Regions from separate parts of the Homo sapiens genome. Here region 1 is linked to region 2. Evidence: fine-mapped expression QTL. A gene starts in region 2. The other region holds a variant in brackets. All regions are shown on one strand. Distances are between the middles of the regions. Region 1 has its middle 130 kb from the start of GAPVD1. Region 2 holds the start of GAPVD1 (GTPase activating protein and VPS9 domains 1).

Region 1 (10,066 bases), 130 kb before region 2:
AAAAAAGAAAAAGATTTTGATACATGCTGCTCAAATTACTCTCAAACATTTTCTTTTTATTTATTTTTTTTTTTTTGAGACAGAGTTTTGCTGTTGTTGCACAGGCTGGAGTGCAACGGCACGATCTCGGCTCACCGCAACCTCCGCCTCCTGGGTTCAAGCGATTCTCCTGCCTCAGCCTCCTGAGTAGCTGGGATTACAGGCATGTGCCACCACGCCCGGCTAATTTTGTATTTTTAGTAGAGACGGGGTTTCTCCATGTTGATCAGGCTGGTCTCGGACTCCTGACCTCAGGCGATCCACCCACCTCAGCCTCCCAAAGTGGTGGGATTACAGGCATGAGCCACTCTGCCTGCCTCTCAAATATTTTCATAATGATTATATATGCATGTGCACTGTGTGTGTGTATTTTTTTTAAAAAACAAATACTGATACAGGGCATACTATGTTCTGGGCACGGCTCTATGTTCTTTACAAATATTTATTTAACCTTCACAACAACCCTATGAGGTAGGTATTATTGTTATTATCCCCATTTTACAAATGGGGAAACTGAGGCCAAGAGAGGTTAAGTCACTTGTCCAAGATCCACCACTAGTAAGTGGTAGAGCTGGGATTTGAGCCCAGGCACCATGGCGCCAGAGTCTGCCTTCATGACCACCATATCCTACTGCTTATGAGAGTGAGGCCTGGGGCCTGGGACAGCTGCCCTCTTCCCTTTCAGGAAAAGTAAGAGTATTCGAGGGCCAGGCACGGTGACTCACGCCTGTAATCCCAGCACTTTGGGAGGCCGAGGCAAGTGAATCACCTGAGGTCAGGGGTTCGAGACCAGCCTGGCCAACATGGCGAAACCCCATCTCTACTAAGAATACAAAAATTAGCCAAGCATGGTTGTGGGCGCCTGTAATCCCAGCTACTTGGGAGGCTGAGGCAGGAGAATCACTTGAACCTGGGAGGCGGAGGTTGCGGTGAGCTGAGATTGCACCACTGCACTCCAGCCTGGGGGACAGAGTAAGACTCTCTCAAAAAAAAAAAAAAAAAAAAAGGATTCGCAGCAATGGCTGCCATTGTGAGCACAGAGCATGCCTGGGGGTGAGAGCTTCATAAAGGCAATAAGCAAAGGAATGACTCGCTGGAGGCTTCTCCCTGATTTCCTTTATTCGTACTCAGACTCCTGGCTTCCTTTGTTTATCGGGTCCTGGTATCAGATCCAGCTGAGGATGAGTTCTGGCCCTGCCACCAGTAGTCTGTGCCCTTCTCTGAGCCTTTGTTCCTTCATCTGGAAAGTGGAGATAATAACAGGGCTCACATCTAAGGTCATGAGGATGACATGTATGAGAATAAAATAAGTGGAAGCACAATTTCAGTCATTTACTCAAGAATGTCCAGAGCCCTGACTGTGTACCCTTTACTCTTCTAATCCCATTGTTGGTCATCTTGGCAACTTCCAATTGTTTGCCCTCATAAACACCACCAACCTCACCACTATATGAACATCCTTGTGCACATTTTTTTTTTTTTTTTGCATTTGCCAAATTATTTCTAGGGGTAAATTTCTAGTTGTGGAATTGCTGGGTCAAAAGGGAGGGTAATTTTTTTTTTTTTTTTTTTTTGAGATGGAGTCTTGCTCTATCACCCAGGCTGGAGGGAGGGTAATCTTTTTCTCTTTTTAGATGGAGTTTCACTTTTTTTACCAGGCTGGAATGCAATGGCATGATCTTGGCTCACTGCAACCTCCGCCTCCCAGGTTCAAGCAATTCTCCTGCGTCAGCCTCCCCAGTAGCTGGGATTACAGGCATGTCCAACCACGCCTGGCTAATTTTGTATTTTTAGTAGAGACAGGGTTTCTCCATGTTGGTCAGGCTGGTCTCGAACTCCCGACCTCAGGTGATCTACCCGCCTTGGCCTCCCAAAGTGCTGGGATTACAGGTGTGAGCCACTGCGCCCAGCCTATTTTTTTTTTTTTTTGAAACAGAGTCTCTCTGTGTCGCTGAGGCTGAAGTACAGTGGCATGATCTCAGCTCACTGTAACCTCCATCTTCCGGGTTCAAGTAATTCTCCTGTCTCAGCCTCCCTAGTAGCTGGGAATACAGGCATGTGCCACCACACCCAGCTAATTTTTGTTTGTTTGTTTGTTTGTTTGCTTAGTAGAGACTAGGTTTCATCATGTTGGCCAGGCTGGTCTTGAACTCCTGGTCTCAGGTGACTCGTCCACCTCCGCCTTCCAAAGTGCTGGGATTATAGGCATAAGCCACAGCGCCTGGCCGATTTATTATCTTTTTGAGACGGAGTCTTGCTCTGTCTTCCAGGCTGGAGTGCAATGGCTTGATCTCGGCTCACTGCAACCTCTGCCACCCGGGTTCAAGAAATTCTCCCACCTTAGCCTCCCAAGTAGCTGGGACTACAGGTGCGCGCACCCCATGCCTGACTAATTTTTGTATTTTTAGTAGAGTTGGGGTTTCACCATGTTGGCCAGGCTGGTTTTGAGCTCCTGACCTCAGGTAATCTGCCTGCCTCGGCCTCCCAAAGTGCTGGGATTACAGGCATGAGCCACCACGTCTACCCTAAGTGACATTTTAAAATAACTAAAGGAGTATAATTGGATTGTTTGTAACACAAAGGATAAATGCCTGAGGGGATGGATACCCCATTTACCCTGCTGTGATTAGTACTCATTGCATGCATCTGTTAAAATATCTCGTGTGCCCCAGAAATATTTAATATATACACCTACACTACACCCCCAAAAATTAAAAATTAAAAAATGAAAAGGAACAATTTAAAAAATAAAATAAAATGCACTGACTTGATGAAAAATAAAATACAATTTAAATATTAGCCACGCATGGTGGCATGCACCTGTAGTCCCAGCTACTTGGGTGGGAGGATTGCTTGAGCCTGGGAGGTGGAGGCTACAGTGACCTGTGATCATGCCACTGCACTCCAGCTTGAGCAACAGTAGGAGACCCCATCTAAAAAAAAAATGAAAGAAAGAAAGGCCACACGTGCAGCCTCAGGCCCGCTAGCAGGATCTAGGAAGGCAGGGCATGGAGACTTCTCTTTCCTCTCCTGCCATGGGTACAAGATGGGGACCTGCTGATGGCCACCATTCTCACTGGCCATTTCTAAACTGGGTTTGTCACACGAAAACTGTTCCCAGGCAGAGCCAAGGAAATCCCTAAATCAATAATGATCTGGGCTGGGCACGGTGGCTCACGCCTGTAATCCCAGCACTTTGGGAGGCCGAGGCAGGCTGATCACTTGAGGTCAGGAGTTCAAGACCAGCACGGCCAGCATGGCGAAACCCCCGCTCTACTAAACACACACAAAAAATTAGCTGAGCATGATGGCGCGTGCCTGTAATCCCAGCTACTCGGAAGGCTGGGGCCGGAGAATCCCTTGAACCCAGGAGGCAGAGGTTGCAGTGAGCTGAGATCGCGCCACTGCACTCCAGCCTGGGTGACAGAGCAAGACTCTGTCTCAAAAAAAAGAAAAGAGAAAAAAGGAATGATCTGGAAGGAGAGTTTGGCCCTGAGAGGCACCCCCAACCTTTCCCTTCTCAGCTCTGCGTGGCTGCACTTTCCTCTCCTCTCCAGACCCCCAGCACGCACAGTGTAAGACCCCCACCTAGAGTCCAGCCAGGCCACAGGGACCGTCCCAGGACACTGGGCCATGAGTGGCAAGTTGGGGAGCACAGGGGGGCCCTGACCAAGGCAGAGAGTCAAGAAAGGCTGCTCTGAGGAGGAGCAGGTAGGGTGGGAGGACAGAGGGGCAGCACGTGGAAGGCTAGGAGGTGAGAGAGGGGCAGTCACGTGGAGGAGGCTGGACCACCTCCCGAGGGCCACGGGGGACCATGGAGGATTTACAGGCAGGCCCTGCCGCCTGTGGAGAATGGACCAGAGGGGCTGAGCCTGGAGCAGAGTGGACTTGGGACCTAGGTTTCTGCTTATATCTCTTGGTTACACATTCTGTTCTGGTAGTAGCATGCCACTACTACTTGGCTAATTTTTGTATTTTTAGTAGACACGTGGTTTCACCATGTTGGCCAGGCTGGTCTCAAAGTCCTGACCTCAGGTGATCCACCCACCTCCGCCTCCCAAAGTGCTAGGATTACAGATGTGAGCCACTGTGCCCAGCCCCAACATCTAAATTTTGCAGGGACACATATATTGAAGCACCCTCTGTCTGGCATGCACCTGCCCCACCACAGGGGTCCACCTGTTCCAGCCTCCCCATGCCACCTGCTGCAGGAAGTCCTCCGCAAGTCACTGGCCAGTAGTGGCCTCACCTGCCCTGCGCTTCCAGCCTGGTCTCTCACTGGGTTTGTCTGAGGCCCTGAACACATTCATCCAGGCATGTCCCAGCTGTTGGGGGCTCGGCTTATCTCCACCTTCCTCCCGCGGCCCCAGCCTTTAGCCAAATGCCCTGCAGAGAATAAGTACAGGCCACAACTCTGGCAGCAGCAAACCTCCTCCCTGACTTTTCTGTGTTCGTTGCGCCCAGCCCAGGGCCTGGCACCAAGCAGGCATCATCCCGTCCTCCATTCACCCGTCCATTTGCCAAACACACATTGAGCGCTGCTCTGTTCCAAGCTTGTGCTAATGGCTGGTCACACCCATGTTGAATAGAATAGACCCACCCCAGCATCTTAGTCAGCTGGGGAGGAGGTGCTGGGAGGGGCGAAGGCCTGGGAGGATCCTGACCCAGCCTGCAGATTGGCGGGAGGGAGACGTCAATGGGGCCAAGCCAACCTGGTGAGGCTGAGAGGCGAGTTTCCCAGAAGGCCTCCCTCTGTGCTTCCTGCATAGGAGCTTTTGAAATTGGAAGGGAAGCAGTGACCTTTGCTCTCTGAAGGTCACAGGAGGCAGCCATGGTGACAGGCAGACCCAGTGGCCTGGGGGGCTCCAGCTTGTCCTCGCCGTTCTCCACCCTGCGCTTGGTCTTCCTGACTGCTGGCCTGCTGACCAGCAGTGGCCCCAGGCCCACCCCAGAGGCTCCCCAAAGAACTCACAGAGGCAGCAGCTACACAGAGGCAATAGCTCCCAGGGGACCCTCCAGGAGCGTCCCCCACATCCCTTCTGGCAGCCAGACACACCTGGCTTCTCAGATCGCTGGGAGGTGTCAGCTCTGACCCCCCGTGTCCCCTCTGGGCCTTCACCTCCAGCTCCTCCCATAATCGTGTCAG[G/C]CCATCCCCATAATGAATCTGCATCCCATAATACCCGCAGTGGCTTTGCTTCCCTGATTGAACCCCGAGTGATACAGTGGTTGGTACTGGTGATGCTTCCAGGAGAAGAGAATCTTAAGGATGGGAACTCAGCATCAGTTCTCCAATCTCAGTGGATTTAGAGGTGTTCAGATCCTGCTGCCGGGGACTACACTGGGGCTCCATGGCACACAGTAGTGGAGCAGTTACATAACCCCTGGACCCAAGGCCCACAGAGGGCTCGGGTGACCAAGTCACTACTGGCATCAAATGTGTGGGTGGAAATAAAGGGCACAGGGACTGTGGGGTCACTTGGTTGCCTCTAAGTGCACTGGAAAACTAATGAGAAAAAGAGATGAGCTCAGGGCTTTGAATTCCCAGATCAAGGTTTTTGTTTTTTTGTTTTGTTTTGTTTTGTGTTTGTTTGTTTGTTTGTTTGTTTTGAAAGGGAGTCTTGCTCTCTCGCCCAGGCTGGAGTGCAGTGGTGCGATCTCGGCTCACCACAACCTCCGCCTCCCGGGCTCAAGCAGTTCTCCTCTCTCAGCCTCCCAAGTAGCTGGGACTACAGGTGCATGCTACCACGCCCGGGTAATTTTTGTATTTTTAGTAGAGATGGGGTTTCACCATGTTGGCCAGGCTGGCATCGAACTCCTGACCTCAGGTGATCCACCCACCTCAGCCTCCCAAAGTGCTGGGATTACAGGCATGAGCTACTGTGCTCAGCTCCCAGATCCAGTTCTGAGTGAAGAGCCAGACGTTGTCCCTGTGCCTGGAGACCCTTCAGTGCCCTGAGACCCTTTAGTGCCCCCTCCTGAGGTGGCCTCCACCTCCCATTGCCTCATCACAGGCGCGGGTTCATTATTGCTGGAGTGGGTTTCTTTTTTTTTTTTTTTTTTTTTTTTTGAGACAGAGTCTTTATCTGTCACCCAGGCTGGAGTGCAGTGGCGTGATCTCGGCTCACAGCAACCTCTGCCTCCCAGGTTCAAACAATTCTCCTGCCTCAGCCTCCCAAGTAGCTGGGATTACAGGTGTCTAACACCATGCCTGGCTAATTTTTGTAGGTTTAGTAGAGACGGGGTTTCACCATGTTGGCCAGGCTGTTCTTAAACTCTTGACCTCAGGTGATCCACCCACCTTGGCCTCCAAAAGTGCTGGGATTACAGGCATGAGCCACCATGCCTGGCCTGGAGTGGGTTTCTTATAAAAGGGTAAGTTTCCATCCTGGCTAACACAATGAAACCCCGTCTCTACTAAAAATACAAAAAATTAGCTGGGCGTGGTGGCGGGCACCTGTAGTCCCAGCTACTCAGGAGGCTGAGGCAGGAGAGTGGCGTGAACCCGGGAGGTGGAGCTTGCAGTGAGCCGAGATTGGGCCACTGCATTCCAGCCTGGGTGACAGAGCGAGACTCCGTCTCAAAAAATAATAATAATAAAAGAAGAAAGGATAAGTTTGGCTCCTTTTGCTCTCTCTTGCCCTCTCTGCACTTCTGCCATGGGATGACACAGCCAGAAGGCCCTTGCCAGATGCTGGTCCTTTGATCTTGGATTTCCCAGCCTCCAGAACCATGTGCCAATAAATTTCTGTTCTTTATAAATTACCCAGTCTATGGCATTCTGTTATAGCAGCAGAAAATGGACTCAAACAGCAGCTAAAAATTTTAACAACTTGCTAAATGTGGAGTGCGAGCTACTGTGAAGTATAGAATCTCCAGGAGCTGCAGACACAAGGAGAATTTTTACCCACTCTCAGGTTCTTCTCTAGGTACATCACCAGGTGCTCATAAGAAAGGTTGGGGCAGGGCAAGAGGTCTGAGAAAGCCTCCTGCAGTCCCTGCAAGAAAGCACGAAGCTCCACTCACTGTCTCTATTTCCATTCTCTCCTTTATGGGACAAAAGACTTAAGCAGTGGGGTCAAGGTGGGAAAAGCCCTCAAGGCACAGAGGAAGACCCACTGCAGGTGAGGGAATCAAACAGAAAAACCCTCTTAATTTTAGGGGAAGGGCAGAAATACATCCTGGGCTCAGACTATTAGATCTCATCTGCTACTGGGGGAGGAGAAGGAGCTCTGAGACCCAGCTCCTGCCTAAAACTGGAGCTGACCCAGAATAATGGAGAATGCCATTCCAGCTCGCCAACATCCCCGCAAAAAAAAAAAAAAAAAAAAAAAACATAAAAAAGGCTTAAAATCACTAATAACAAGTTACAGTTGTGGGTCTACTGCTGGGGGAAAGGCAAGAATGCAGGGAGAGATGCTCTCTTGGGAGCAAATGCAAAGAGAAGACCTAAAACTGAGGGTAGGCTGGGTGCGGTGGCTCACTCTTGTAATTCCAGCACTTTGGGAGGCCGAGATCAGGAGTTCGAGACCAGCCTAGCCAACATGGTGAAACCCCGTCTCCACTAAAAATACAAAACATTAGCCAGACGTGGTGGCACGTGCCTGTAATCCCAGCTACTCAGGAGGCTGAGGCAGGAGAATTGCTTGAACCCAGGAGGCAGAGGTTGCAGTGAGCCGAGATCACGCCACTGTACTCCAGCCTGGGTGACAGAGCGAGACTCCATCTCAAAAAGAAAAAAAAAAAAAAAAACTGAGAGTGGATCGGACATTGGGAAAAAACCTTCTAGCAAGTCAGGCCCCACTCTAAACACTTAGTGATATTAGAGGAATGTCAAGCAATCTGAGAAAGAAAAATGGGCAAAAGATTTGAATAGGCTGGGTGTGGTGGCTCACACCTGCCATCCCAGCACTTTGGGAGGCTGGAGGATCACTTGAGACCAAGAGGTCAAGATCCTGTCTCAAAAAAGAAAAAAAAAAAAAAGATTTGACTAATACATTACATCAAAGAAGATACATGTATGGTAAATAAGCACATGAGGAGATGCTCGATGTTGTTAGTTAAGCAAAGTGATGCTAGAGAACTGTGGGGCCCTGAGGGCAACAGAGCAACACCAAACCCCAAAGCCAGCTTAACTCCTGGCTAGACTGACCAGCTCCCTACCTGAAGGGCCTGGCAAAAGCAGCAGCATTAACCAGGCACAGGGGCTCACACCTGTTGTTTTTTGGTGTTTTTTTTTTTTTTGACAGTCCTGCTCTGTCGCCCAGGCTGGAGTACAGTGGCGCAATCTCAGCTTACTGCAACCTCCGCCTCCCAGGTTCAAGCGATTCTCCTGCCTCAGCCACCCAAGTAGCTGGGATTACAGCCGCCCGCCACCATGCCCAGCTAATTTTTGTATTTTCAGCAGAGATGGGGTTTCACCATGTGATGGCCCCATCTCTATGCCATGCAGCTGTGTTTTGGGAGGCTGAGGTAGAAGGACCACCTGAGGCCAGGAGTTCAAGACCAGCCTGGGCAACATAGCAAGACCCTGTCTCTACAAAATATAAATAAATTAGCCAGGCACGTGGAATATGCCTGTAGTTCCAGCTACTCAGGAGGCTGAGGCAGCAGATTACTTGAGCTCAGGAGTTCAAGGCTGCAGTGAGCTGTGATTGTACCACTGCACTTCAGCCTGGGCAACAGAGCAAAACACTGCTTAAAAAAAAAATAGAAGAAGTAAGCCCATTTTCAGGTGTAAATGCTATTTACCTCAGTCTCTACTATCCTATACAAGATCCCAGCTTTCAATCAAAAAAATACGAGACACACAAAGAAGCAAGAAAAGCAACACACCGTCAAGGGATAAAGCAATCAACAAAATCAGACTGAGATATGACCCAGATGTTGGAACTTTTAGGGAATTTTAATAATTATGATTAATATGTTAAAGGCAATGGGAGAAAAGGTGAGTAGCATGTACCCACAGTTGGGGAATTTCATTAAAGAGATGGAAACTATAGGAAAGAATAAATAAAATGCTAGAAATGAAAGTCACAGTAAAAGAGAATGATGTTGACAGGCTCATCAAAAGACTCAGCATAGCTGGGGAAGTAATCAGTGAACCTAGGCCACGAGCAGTGGCTTATGCCTGTAATCCCAGCACTTTAGGAGGCTGAGGTAGGAGGATTGCTACAGGCCGGGAGCTTGAGACCAGCCTGGGCAACATCGTGAGACCCTGTATCTATACAAAACAATTTTTAAAAATTAGCCGGGCATGGTGGTGCATGTCTGTAGTCCTGGCTACTTGGGAGGCCAAGGCCATAGGATCATTGGGGCCCAAGAGTTTGAGACCACAGAGAGCTATGATTGTGCCCCTGCATTCCAGCTTAGGTGACAGAGTGAGACCCTGTCTCTAAGGAAAAAAAAGAAGAAAAAAATAGGGGAGGGAAAAAAACACAGAAACAGAACAGAGCATCCTAAAGTTAGGAGACAATATAAAACAGTCTTAAAAAATATATGTAATTAGAATCCCAGAAGAAGAAAAGGATCAGATGGATGGAAGAAATATTTAAATTTAAAACGCCAGGCCAGGAGCAGTGGCTCATGCCTGTAATCCTAGCACTGTAGGAGGCTGAGATGTGAGGGTCGCTTGAGGCCAGGACATTGAGACCAGCCTGGTCAACATAGCGAGACCCCATCTCTATATTAATAAAAGTAAAAAATTATAAAACGCCATAAATTTTCCAAAATTAATGAAAGACATCAAATAACAGATCCAAGAAGCTCATGGACATAAATGTAAAACCTAAAACTACAAAACTTCTAGAAGAAAATACAGAAGAAAACCCTTGTGACCTTGGGTTTCTTTGCTACAATACCAAAAGCACAAAGAAAAAAATTGGTGGCCAGGTGCAGTGGCTCCTGCCTGTAATTCCAACACTTTGGGAGGCCGAGGTGGCTGGATCACTTGAGGTCAGGAGTTTGAGACCAGCCTGGCCAATATGGTGAAACCTCGTCTCTATTAAAAATACTAAAATTAGCCAGGCAT
Region 2 (10,066 bases):
ATCCTCAAAAGAAATTATAGATAACGGGCTGCGCGCGGTGGCTCACGCCTGTAATCCCAGCACTTTGGGAGGCCGAGGCAGGTGGATCACAAGGTCAGGAGATCAAGACCATCCTGGATAACATGGTGAAACCCCGTCTCTACTGAAAATACAAAAAATTAGCTGGGCATGGTGGCGGGCGCCTGTAGTCCCAGCTACTTGGGAGGCTGAGGCAGGAGAATGGCGTGAACTCGGGAGGCAGAGCTTGCAGTGAGCCAAGATCACGCCACTGCACTCCAGCCTGGGCGACAGAGCGAGACTCCGTCTAAAAAAAAAAAAATAAAATAAAATAAAATAAAATAAAAATTAGCCGGGCATAGTGGTGCATGCCTATAATCCCAGCTGCTCGGGAAGCTGAGGCAGGAGAAATGCTGGAACCCGGGAGACGGAGATTGCAGTGAGCCGAGATCGCGCATTTGCACTCCAGCCTGGGCAACAAGAGCAAAACTCCACCTCAAAAAAAAAAAAAAAATTATAGATATCATCCCCTTTGCCACTACCTCCCATTCATAATCCCTTATAGACGTGAAATTATAGAGTACGCCTATCTTCAACTTTACTAAGGGCTGCAAATACTGTCTTCAAAAGCAGCTATACCAGTTTACACTCAACCAACAGTTTTTTTTTCCTCCTCCTAACAGTAACCGGTAGCAGTTTCTTTTTTTTTTTTTTTTTATAAATTTTTTCTTTTTTAATAGAGACAGGGGTCTCACTTTGAGGCCCAGGCTGGTCTTGAACTCCCGGGTTCAAGGACTCAAGTGGCCCTCAAACTCCAAAAGTGCTAAAATTATAGGCATGAGCTACCACGCCTGGCCAGTAGTTTCAAAATTACCATTTTTGCCACATCTTCACCAACATTTGATATCGTCAGACATGAAATTTTTTTTTTGGCCGGGCGCGGTGGCTCACACTTGTAATCCCAGCACTATGGGAGGCCGAGGTGGGCAGATCACGAGGTCAGGAGTTCAAGACCAGCCTGGCCAATATGGTGAAACCCCGTCTCTACAAAAAAATACAAAAATTAGCCAGCCATCGTGGCACCCGCCTGTAGTCCCAGCCCAGGAGGGAGACTGAGGCAGGAGAATCGCTGGAACCCGGGAGGCAGAGGTTTCAGTGAGCCAAGATTACACCACTGCACTCCAGCCTGGGAGACAAGTAAGACTCCCTCTCAGAAAGAAGAACAGAAAAAGAAACAATGCCAGGTGTGGTGGTGCCGACCTATAGTCCTAGCTACTTGGTAAGGCTGAGGCAGGAGGATCACTCAAGTCCAGGAGTTCAAGTCCAGCCTGGGCAATGCAGCAAGACCTTGTTTCAAAAAAAAAGAAGGAAGAAGAAAGAAGGAAGAAGAATGAAGAGAAATAAAACAACCTAGGATCACACAGTAAAAGGTAAAAGAACCTCAGCAAAACAAGAACTTCACTTACAGACTTTCCCTTTTATTACCTCATACAAAATGATGAATAATCAAACCTATATGGCAGCATGTACTAAGAATGATTAGTCCCCATATGAAACCAAATGCTCACAAAAGCACAACATAGTGCTGGGAAATAATTTTTTGTCTTTTAAAAAATGTAAGATGGCCAGGCGCGGTGGCTCACGCCAATAATCCTAGCACTCTGGGGGGCCAAGGCGGGCAGATCACTTAAGGTCAGGAGGTTCGAGGCCAGCCTGACCAACATGGTGAAACCCCGTTTCTACTAAAAATACAAAAATTAGCCAGGCATGGTGGCAGCACCTGTAGTCCCAGCTACCTGGGAGGCTGAGGCAGGAGAATGGCATGAACCCGGTAGGCAGAGCTTGCAGTGAGCTGAGATCGCGCCACTGCACTCCAGCCTGGGCGACAGCCTGAGACTCCATCTCAGAAAAAAAAAAAAAAAATCCACCTCCATGATTTAAAGAAAACCAGCAAACAGTAAAATTTCTTTTCTCAGGCTTACATTAGAGCTTACAGAGCTGCAATCCCTTGGAAGTGGGGAGGTGCCTTAATACAAAAATTTAAAGGCCAACATATTCACTTTTCTTTCTTCTTCCGATTATTTTGTTCATTCCCCATTACCCTGAATGAAATATCTATGGTCTATTCTTTCAAAATGACTACTCTGGGCAGGACGCGGTGGCTCACATCAGTAATCCCAGCACTTTGGGAGTCCGAGGCAGGCAGATCACCTGAGGTCAGGACTTTGAGACCAGCCTGACCAACATGGTGAAACCTTGCCTCTACTAAAAATATAAAAATTATCCAGGCGTGGTGGCTGGTGTCTGTAGTCCCAGCTACTCAGGAAGCTGAGGCACAAGAATCGCTTGAACCCAGGAAGCTGAGGTCGCAGTGAGCGGAGATCATGCCACTGCACTCCAGCCTAGGCAACAGAGCCAGACTCCGTCTCAAAACAAAACAAAACAAAAGACTACCCTGATCCCATCCAAATTTTTTATCTCCCTGATTATGAAATTCTCTTTCGTCTACACTGTCATCCTGTCTGCCTTCAATGATTCAAATGTTCTTCTAAAGAACCAGATTGCCATTTATGAACTCCTTTTTAAGGAGGGAGTCATGGTGGCCAAGAAGGATGTCCACATGCCTAAGCACCCAGAGCTGGCAGACAAGAACGTGCCCAACCTTCATGTCATGAAGGCCATGCAGTCTCTCAAGTCTCAAGGCTACATGAAGGAACAGTTTGCCTGGAGACATTTCTACTGGTACCTTACCAATGAGGGTATCCAGTATCTCCGGGATTACCTTCATCTGCCCCCCGGAGACTGTACCTGCTACCCTACGCCATAGCTGTCCAGAGACCGGCAGGCCTCAGCCTAAAGGTCTGGAGGGTGAGTGACCTGCGAGACTCACAAGAGGGGAAGCTGACAGACATACCTACAGATGGAGTGCTGACAGACATACCTACAGATGGAGTGCTGTGCCACTTAGTGCCGACAAGAAAGCTGAGGCTGGGGCTGGGTCAGCAGCCAAATTCCAGTTGAGACGGATTTGGTCGTGGACGTGGTCAGCCACCTCAGTAAAATTGGAGAGGATTCTTTTGCATTGAATAAACTTACAACCAAAAAAAAAAAAACAACAGTTCTTCTAAGTAGACTTATAAATCCAAAAAACCTTATTTCTATTTCAGGAGTTTTTTTGTTTTGTTTTGTTTTTTGAGACGGAGTCTCGCTCTGTTGCCAGGCTGGAGTGCAGTGGCGTGATCTTGGCTCACTGCAATATCCACCTCCCGGGCTCAAGTGATTCTCTTGCCTCAGCCTCCCAAGTAGCTGGGATTACAGGCATGGGCCACCACACCCAACTAATTTTTGTATTTTTAGTAGAGATGGGGTTTCACCATGTTGGCCAGGATGGTCTCGATCTCTTGACCTCAATGATCCGCCCGCCTCGGCCTCCCAAATTATTTCAGGAGTTCTTAATCTTTTTGTGCACGGACCTCATTGGCAGTTTGGTGAAGCCTATGGTCCCTTTCTCAGATTTCTTTTAAGTGCATAATTAAATACATGTGATTACAAGGGAAACCAATTATATGGAAATATTAGCAAAACAACAAACTAATATGGTCATAATATATGTACAGCCTTATTATCACATTAAATAACAATGTCTAACGGCGGGTCTAGTAACACCAGAAATTCAAAGAAGTGTTAACCATAAATGATATTCTGAGCTATCTGCAACTGTAAACATGATGCAAAAATATCCGTAATTTTTATTGATCACAAAGTCATAGGCGCTGCTAATGCTACTCTGGCTTGTTGTCCACATTCGTAACTGAAGGAAATAATAAGTTTCAGTTAGCAGTCAATAAAAATAATGATGTCATTTTATCCTCCTTCTAGTGAAAGGACCCTTCTAATTCTATCCATCAATGAACTCCAGTTTAAAACCCCTCTCTAGTTCAAAGTCCTGCTCAGAACTGATTTTCGTCATAAATTTAAAAATAAAAACACTGATTCCTCCTTTGACCTAGTTCTCATCTGAACCTATCACTATGTCTCCCTGTTTTTATGCACATTTATACACAGAACCCTGGGTGTACTTCTGTGGTTTGCCTAGCCAGCACTCACTACAATTTTGCCAGTCAATAAAAGGTGAAGTTAAAAGAAAAGGGATGGAAACAACCAACAGCTCCCTCACTTTCAGACCTCCGACAGCAAGTGGAAAGATGCCAAGTACAGTGAGTGTCTGTGTTAGGTGGGCTGCCCCCAGACCCGTGTGTCCAGCTTGTCAAGCTTCCCTGCAGCACGATATCTTTATCAGCGACACTCAGAAGACATTCCATTTCGTTCTCGCCTCCTATACTCAGTTCCCTACCTGCCGGGCCTCTCGTCTCTGGCCCCCACCCGAGGCCGCCCCGCGGTCCTCCTGTCCCTTCCCATCCCATCCCCCACGCGTCTCTCCCTCTCCTCAGCCCCAGGCCGCCCTGGCTCCTGCGCGCCGCCACATCTCTCCCCTGGGTCTAACCCAGTGTCCCCCGACCCCCACCTCGCCCGACACTGACGGGAAGAGCCCAGGACCCCGGGGTCAGTTGGACCTGACGGCCGGGCAGTCAGAGACAGGCTGCGGCCCTAGGCCGGAGCAACCCGGCCGCGAGGCAGGGAGCCGCTCACAGCCCGCGGACTAAATCGGGACGCGTACTCACCAAGGGGGTCATGCGGGGGAGGACACGGAGGACTCTGTCGGACCGCCACTCGGCCTCGGAGCCGTCGCCCTAGCCGGTGACTGCCCCCGCCGCCGCTGCCGCCACCTTCGCCACTCGCCTGTTGGCTTCCCTGCGTCCTGCAGCGGCGCTGCCGCCACGCCAGCGCGCGTGCGCAGCGCCGCGGGGGCCTCTGGGAGCTGTAGTTCCGCCCGGGCGGCTAGGGGCTCCCACTTCCGCCTTAGGCAGCCCTAGGTCAGCTGCCCCCTGAGGCTGTCGTGGGTGTCCGGGTCCGGAATCGTCTTCCGGAAGGCTGTTCACCAGGCCTGGGCCCTGGTTTCCGCCTGCAGTAATGCTGGACGTGAAGAATCCGACTGAGCAAGTATGTGTAAAGCAAAAATGTAGAGCGTTTTATGCTTTCTGTGACAACGCTCAGTTGCCCAGGACACATTATTCGCATGAATGACTCTCTCTCTTCTCTGTTTCTCTCTCACACGTACGCACACACTACTTACAAACCTCCCTTCCCTTTTTTTTTTTTTTTCGAGACGGAGTCTGGCTCTGTCGCCCAGGCTGGAGTGCAGTGGCTCAATCTCGGCTCACTGCAAGCTCCGCCTCCCGGGTTCACGCCATTCTCCCGCCTCAGCCTCCCAAGTAGCTGGAACTACAAGCGCCCGCCACCACGCCCGGCTAATTTTTTGATTTTTAGTAGAGACGAGGTTTCACCGTGTTAGCCAGGATGGTCTCGATCTCCTGACCTCGTGATCCGCCCGCCTCGGCCTCCCAAAGTGCTGGGATTACAGGCGTGAGCCACCGCTGCCGGCCCCTCCCTTCCCTTTTGTTCTAAGTGCCATTAATTGGTTTGGATGGTATCTGGATTTTCAGTGTAAAACCTGCCTTCCCACTTCTCAGTTTCTAAAATCTTGCTTATCATAAACTTCACCATGCAGTTATTTTAGGTAAGTCAATAAATGAACTGTCTAATAATTTTTGTAACACCATAACTCATATATTCAGAGGTCAAGTTAGCTGAGTTGAACAGTCTAGAAACCTTAAAATTGGAAGATACCTGCTTAAAGGTCACTAGTGCAACTGTTGCCCAGGCAGGAATTCCCTCCTGTACATTCAGCCAGATGGTCATCTTCCTGTTCAACAGTTCAAATTTCAGGGAGCTCACTCCCTCAAGTAATGCAGCCTGCTCCACTGTTGGACAGCTCTAAATGTTAGAAAGTTCTGCCTCCTGCTGAGCTGAAATCTGTTTCCCTTTATTTCCTTCCATTGCTGGTAGTTAGGCTGCCTGGAGCAATACAGAATGTCTTCCACTTGACAGATCTTCAAAAAATTGAGAACAATGATTATATCCTCCAATACTGGGAGTCTCCAGGCAAAAAAAGGAAAAAAGTAATAATCATTTCCCCAGCTATTTCAAATGTCAATCAACTCCCAAACTGCTTTCTATCTACTCACCTCTCTTGATGTCACCTTTAGGGGCATGGTGGCATATGCCTATAATCCTAGCACTTTGCGAGGCCAAGGCAGGAGGATTGCTTGAGCCCAGAAGTTCAAGACCAGCCTGAGCAACATAGTGAAACCCCAACTCTACAAAAAATACAAAAATCAGCGAGGCATGGTGGCTTGCACCTGTAGTCCCAGCTACTAGGGAGGCTGAAGTGGGAGGATCACCAAGCCCAAAAAGGTCAAGGCTGCAGTGAGCTGTGATCATGCCACTGAACTCCATCCTGGGCAGCAGAGTGAAACCTGTCTCAAAACAAAACAGCAACAACAACATTGACAGAATTGCTTCATATTTATTGCCTTGTTTTATGACTACATAGGTAGTAATAGAACCACCTATGGTAGGCTGGTCAGATGTTATTGCTATCGTGCTGCCATTCAACTCATTCAGGAATTCAATCAGCTCTGTTACAAGACATTACTCAATGCACCGCTGGCATGAAATAAGCAAGAGGAGGCCGGGCGCAGTGGCTCACGCCTGTAATCCCAGCACTTTGGGAGGCCGAGGTGGGCGGATCATGAGGTCAGGAGATCGAGACCATCCTGGCTAACACGGTAGAAACCTGTCTCTACTAAAAATACAAAAAATTAGCCGGGCATGGTGGCAGGCGCCTGTAGTCCCAGCTACACGGGAGGCTGAGGCAGGAGAATGGCGTGAACCCGGGAGACGGAGCTTGCAGTGAGTGGAGATCGTGCCACTGCACTCCAGCCTGGGCGACAGAGCGAGACTCTGTCTCAAGAAAAAAAAAAAAAGAAAAGAAATAAGCAAGAGGATACAATTTACAATCTAGGGTAGGATGAAACTGCCACAGATTAAGGATCATCATAATAAGCCAAGGTACAAAGCATTCTGAGATTCTCAGAGAGAATGGCCTTTTCAAGTTGAGGGTTCATGACCTTATGGAAGAGGTGACAGTTAGGAGTTACTGGATGGCTGGATTTCAAGACAAGAGATGGCATTCGTGGACTGCTAAGGAAGAACTCAGCCTTAGCAAAACCACATTCACAGTGGGCTCTGGAACACTGCGTCTGGGTAGGCTGGAGCACCCAGGCCAGGGAGGAAGGGAAGGAGAGGCCCCAAAAGTTGCAAAAGAATCTTCAGGGAAGCTGCATTGCATGTGAGAAGTAAAAAAGGAACTAGAATGGTCAGTTAATCTTCTGAGCCCTGTTCTGTCACCTACAAATGAAGAACTTGAACTAACAAGCAATTTTCTTTTTTTTTTCCAGTCAGCACACTCAAGGAATTCAAATCTCCTGCTAGAACTATGGATCACTACAACAGTGATTCTTGGGAAATATGGAATAGGTATTATTTTCATCCCTTTTACAAATGGGAAAGTAAACTCAAGAGGTGAAAATTTGCTCAAAATCAATAAGTAGTACTCACTGAGGGCAGATCACTGTCTCCCTAGAACCTGGCATACTGCCTAGAATGTAATGTTTGTTTTTTGTTTTTTAAATGAATGGATGAATACACAGTAAACTCTGTCCAAAGCCCCTTTCTTTCCATACACAACTCAGTCTTCCCTGACATAGAAGGATATGAAGTTACTTGTTCATGGTCACAAAATTCATACTGGACCTTGTGTAGAGTTTAGTTCTTCAGCCTCCCAACTCCATACTCTATTAAACTACTCTGCCTTAGAATCGCAAAACATTTTTTTTAATGTTCTTTTTCCTTCTATGTGTACACAGCCAGTCTTAGAAGTAAGCCAAGAAAGCAGATGCTATGGCCAAGTGATTTAAGGGGCCTCTGGCAAGTATTTCTGGACAAAAAAACACTTTATCCCCAGGTCCCTCAAAGGCCCCCAAACTTCATCACTTATATTGAATCACAAATGTTAACTTGAGGTGAAAATTTAAACCAACACATAGTCCCTGAGGGCGCAGACTCCATCTTATTCACCACTGGGCGTACTGCCTAGAATGTAATAATTTGTCTACATTTTTATTTTAGAAATAGGTCTTGCTATGTTGCCCAGGCTAGAATGCAGTAACTATTCACAGGTGCTATCGTGAGGGCTCAAGGGATCCTCATGCCTCAGCTTCCTGAGTACCTGGGACCACAGGCTTGCACCGCTGTGCTGGGCTCGCCTGTTTGTTTTTTGTTTTGTTTTGTTTTGTTTTGTTTGAGATGGAGTCTCACTCTGTTGCCCAGGCTGGAGTGCAGTGGAATGATCTCAACTCACTGCAACCTCCACCTCCTGGGATCAAGCAGTTCTCATGCCTAATCCTCAGCTGGGATTACAGGTGCACGCCACCATGCCTGGCTAATTTTTCTTTTTCTTTTTCTTTTTTGAGACAGAGTTTCGCTCTTATTGCCCAGGCTGGAGTACAATGGCACGATCTCGGCTTACCACAACCTCCGCCTCCCAGGTTCAAGCAATTCTCATGCCTCAGCCTCCCGAACAGCTGGGATTACAGTTCGGGCCACCATGCCCGGCTAATTTTTTTTTTTTTTTTTATGGAGTTTCGCTCTTGTTGCCCAGGCTGGAGTGCCATGGCGCGATATCAGCTCACCATAACCTCCGCCTCCCAGGTTCAAGTGATTCTCCTGCCTCAACCTCCAGAGTAGCTGAGACTACAAGCGCACGCCACCATCCCTGGCTAATTTTTGTATTTTTAGTTCAGACAGGGTTTCACTATGTTGGCCAGGCTGGTCTTGAACTCCTGACCTCGTGATCTGCCCGCCTCGGCCTCCCAAAGTGCTGGGATTACAGGTGTGAGCTACTGCGCCAGCAAATTTTGTATTTTTAGTAGAGACGGGGTTTCTCCATGTTGGTCAGGCTGGTCTCGAACTCCCAACCTCAGGTGATCTGCCCACCTCAGCCTCCCAAAGTGCTGGAATTACAGGTGTGAGCCATCCATCAAGACCAAAAAGTAACATTGTTTAAGTTACAATACATCTACACTTAAGAAAGAAATATGAGAGTTAAGTGAGACCAAACCATACCAGAAAGAAAAACAGGCCATAAGAAATAAAGATTACAGAGAAAGAGGAAGACAAAAGGGAAGAAACAAGGACTTCACCTATGACATGATTTTATTTCAGCAGTCCCTAACCTTTTTGGCACCAGGGACTGGTTTTGTGGAAGACAGTTTTTCCAGGAAATGGTGGTAGGGGGTGGAGGAGGTCGGGGGGATGGTTTCGGGATGAAATTGTTACACCTCAGATAATTAGGCATTAGATTCCCATAAGGAGTGGACAACCTAGACCCCTTGCATACGCAGTTCACAATAGGGTTCGCACTCCTATGATAATCTAATGCCATTGCTGATCTGACAGGAGGCAGAGCTCAGGTGGTAATGCTCACTTACCCACCACTCACTTCATCCTGTGCTGCTCCATTCCTAACAAGCCACAGACGGGTACCAGTTCACGGCTCTGGGGTTGGAGACCCCGATTTATTTGGCACACAGTTTGGAAAGGAAAATGCTGTGAAATAGTAGTACACGCTTGACTGTGGAAAGATTAGGGCCACATCTGGAAGAGTCAAGCAAATTATAAACTAGGCAGTAAGTAAATACAGCAATAACATGAATAGAAATCATAATTTTACCATTAAAAAACTCTAAAATAGTTTTCATCGTTTATTTACTTTTTGAGACAGGATCTCGCTCTTTCACCCAGGCTAAAGCTCAGTGACACCATCACTGCTTACTGCAGCCTCAACCTCCCTGGCTCAAGCCATCCTCCCACTTCAGCCTCCAGAGTACCTGGAACTTCACACATGCGAAGTCCCTTCACTGTGCCTGGCTAATTTTTTTATTTTTTATACAGACAAGATCTCACTGTGTTGCCCAGGCTGGTCTCAAACTCCTGGACTCAAGTAATCTTCCTGCCTCGTCCTCCTAAAGTGCTGGGATTACAGGCA

What was found.
Region 1: its variant is fine-mapped to the expression of GAPVD1 in subcutaneous fat (GTEx, PIP 0.94).

What each region holds. Positions count from the first base shown.
Region 1 is chr9:125,382,975-125,393,040 of GRCh38, reverse strand. No RefSeq gene overlaps it. Among named protein-coding and RNA genes, the nearest start is that of GAPVD1, 130 kb to the right of the region's middle. RefSeq lists an enhancer at 2,288-3,027. The variant G/C (reference allele first, on the strand shown) is at 5,186.
Region 2 is chr9:125,256,573-125,266,638 of GRCh38, reverse strand. GAPVD1 (GTPase activating protein and VPS9 domains 1) reads right to left here and starts at 4,813. Exons shown (of 28, transcript NM_001282680.3): 1 at 4,680-4,813. HSPA5-DT (HSPA5 divergent transcript) reads right to left here. Exons shown (of 3, transcript NR_186826.1): 3 at 9,568-9,675. It also overlaps the pseudogene RPS10P17. RefSeq lists silencers at 4,667-4,796, 4,735-4,916, 8,240-8,498.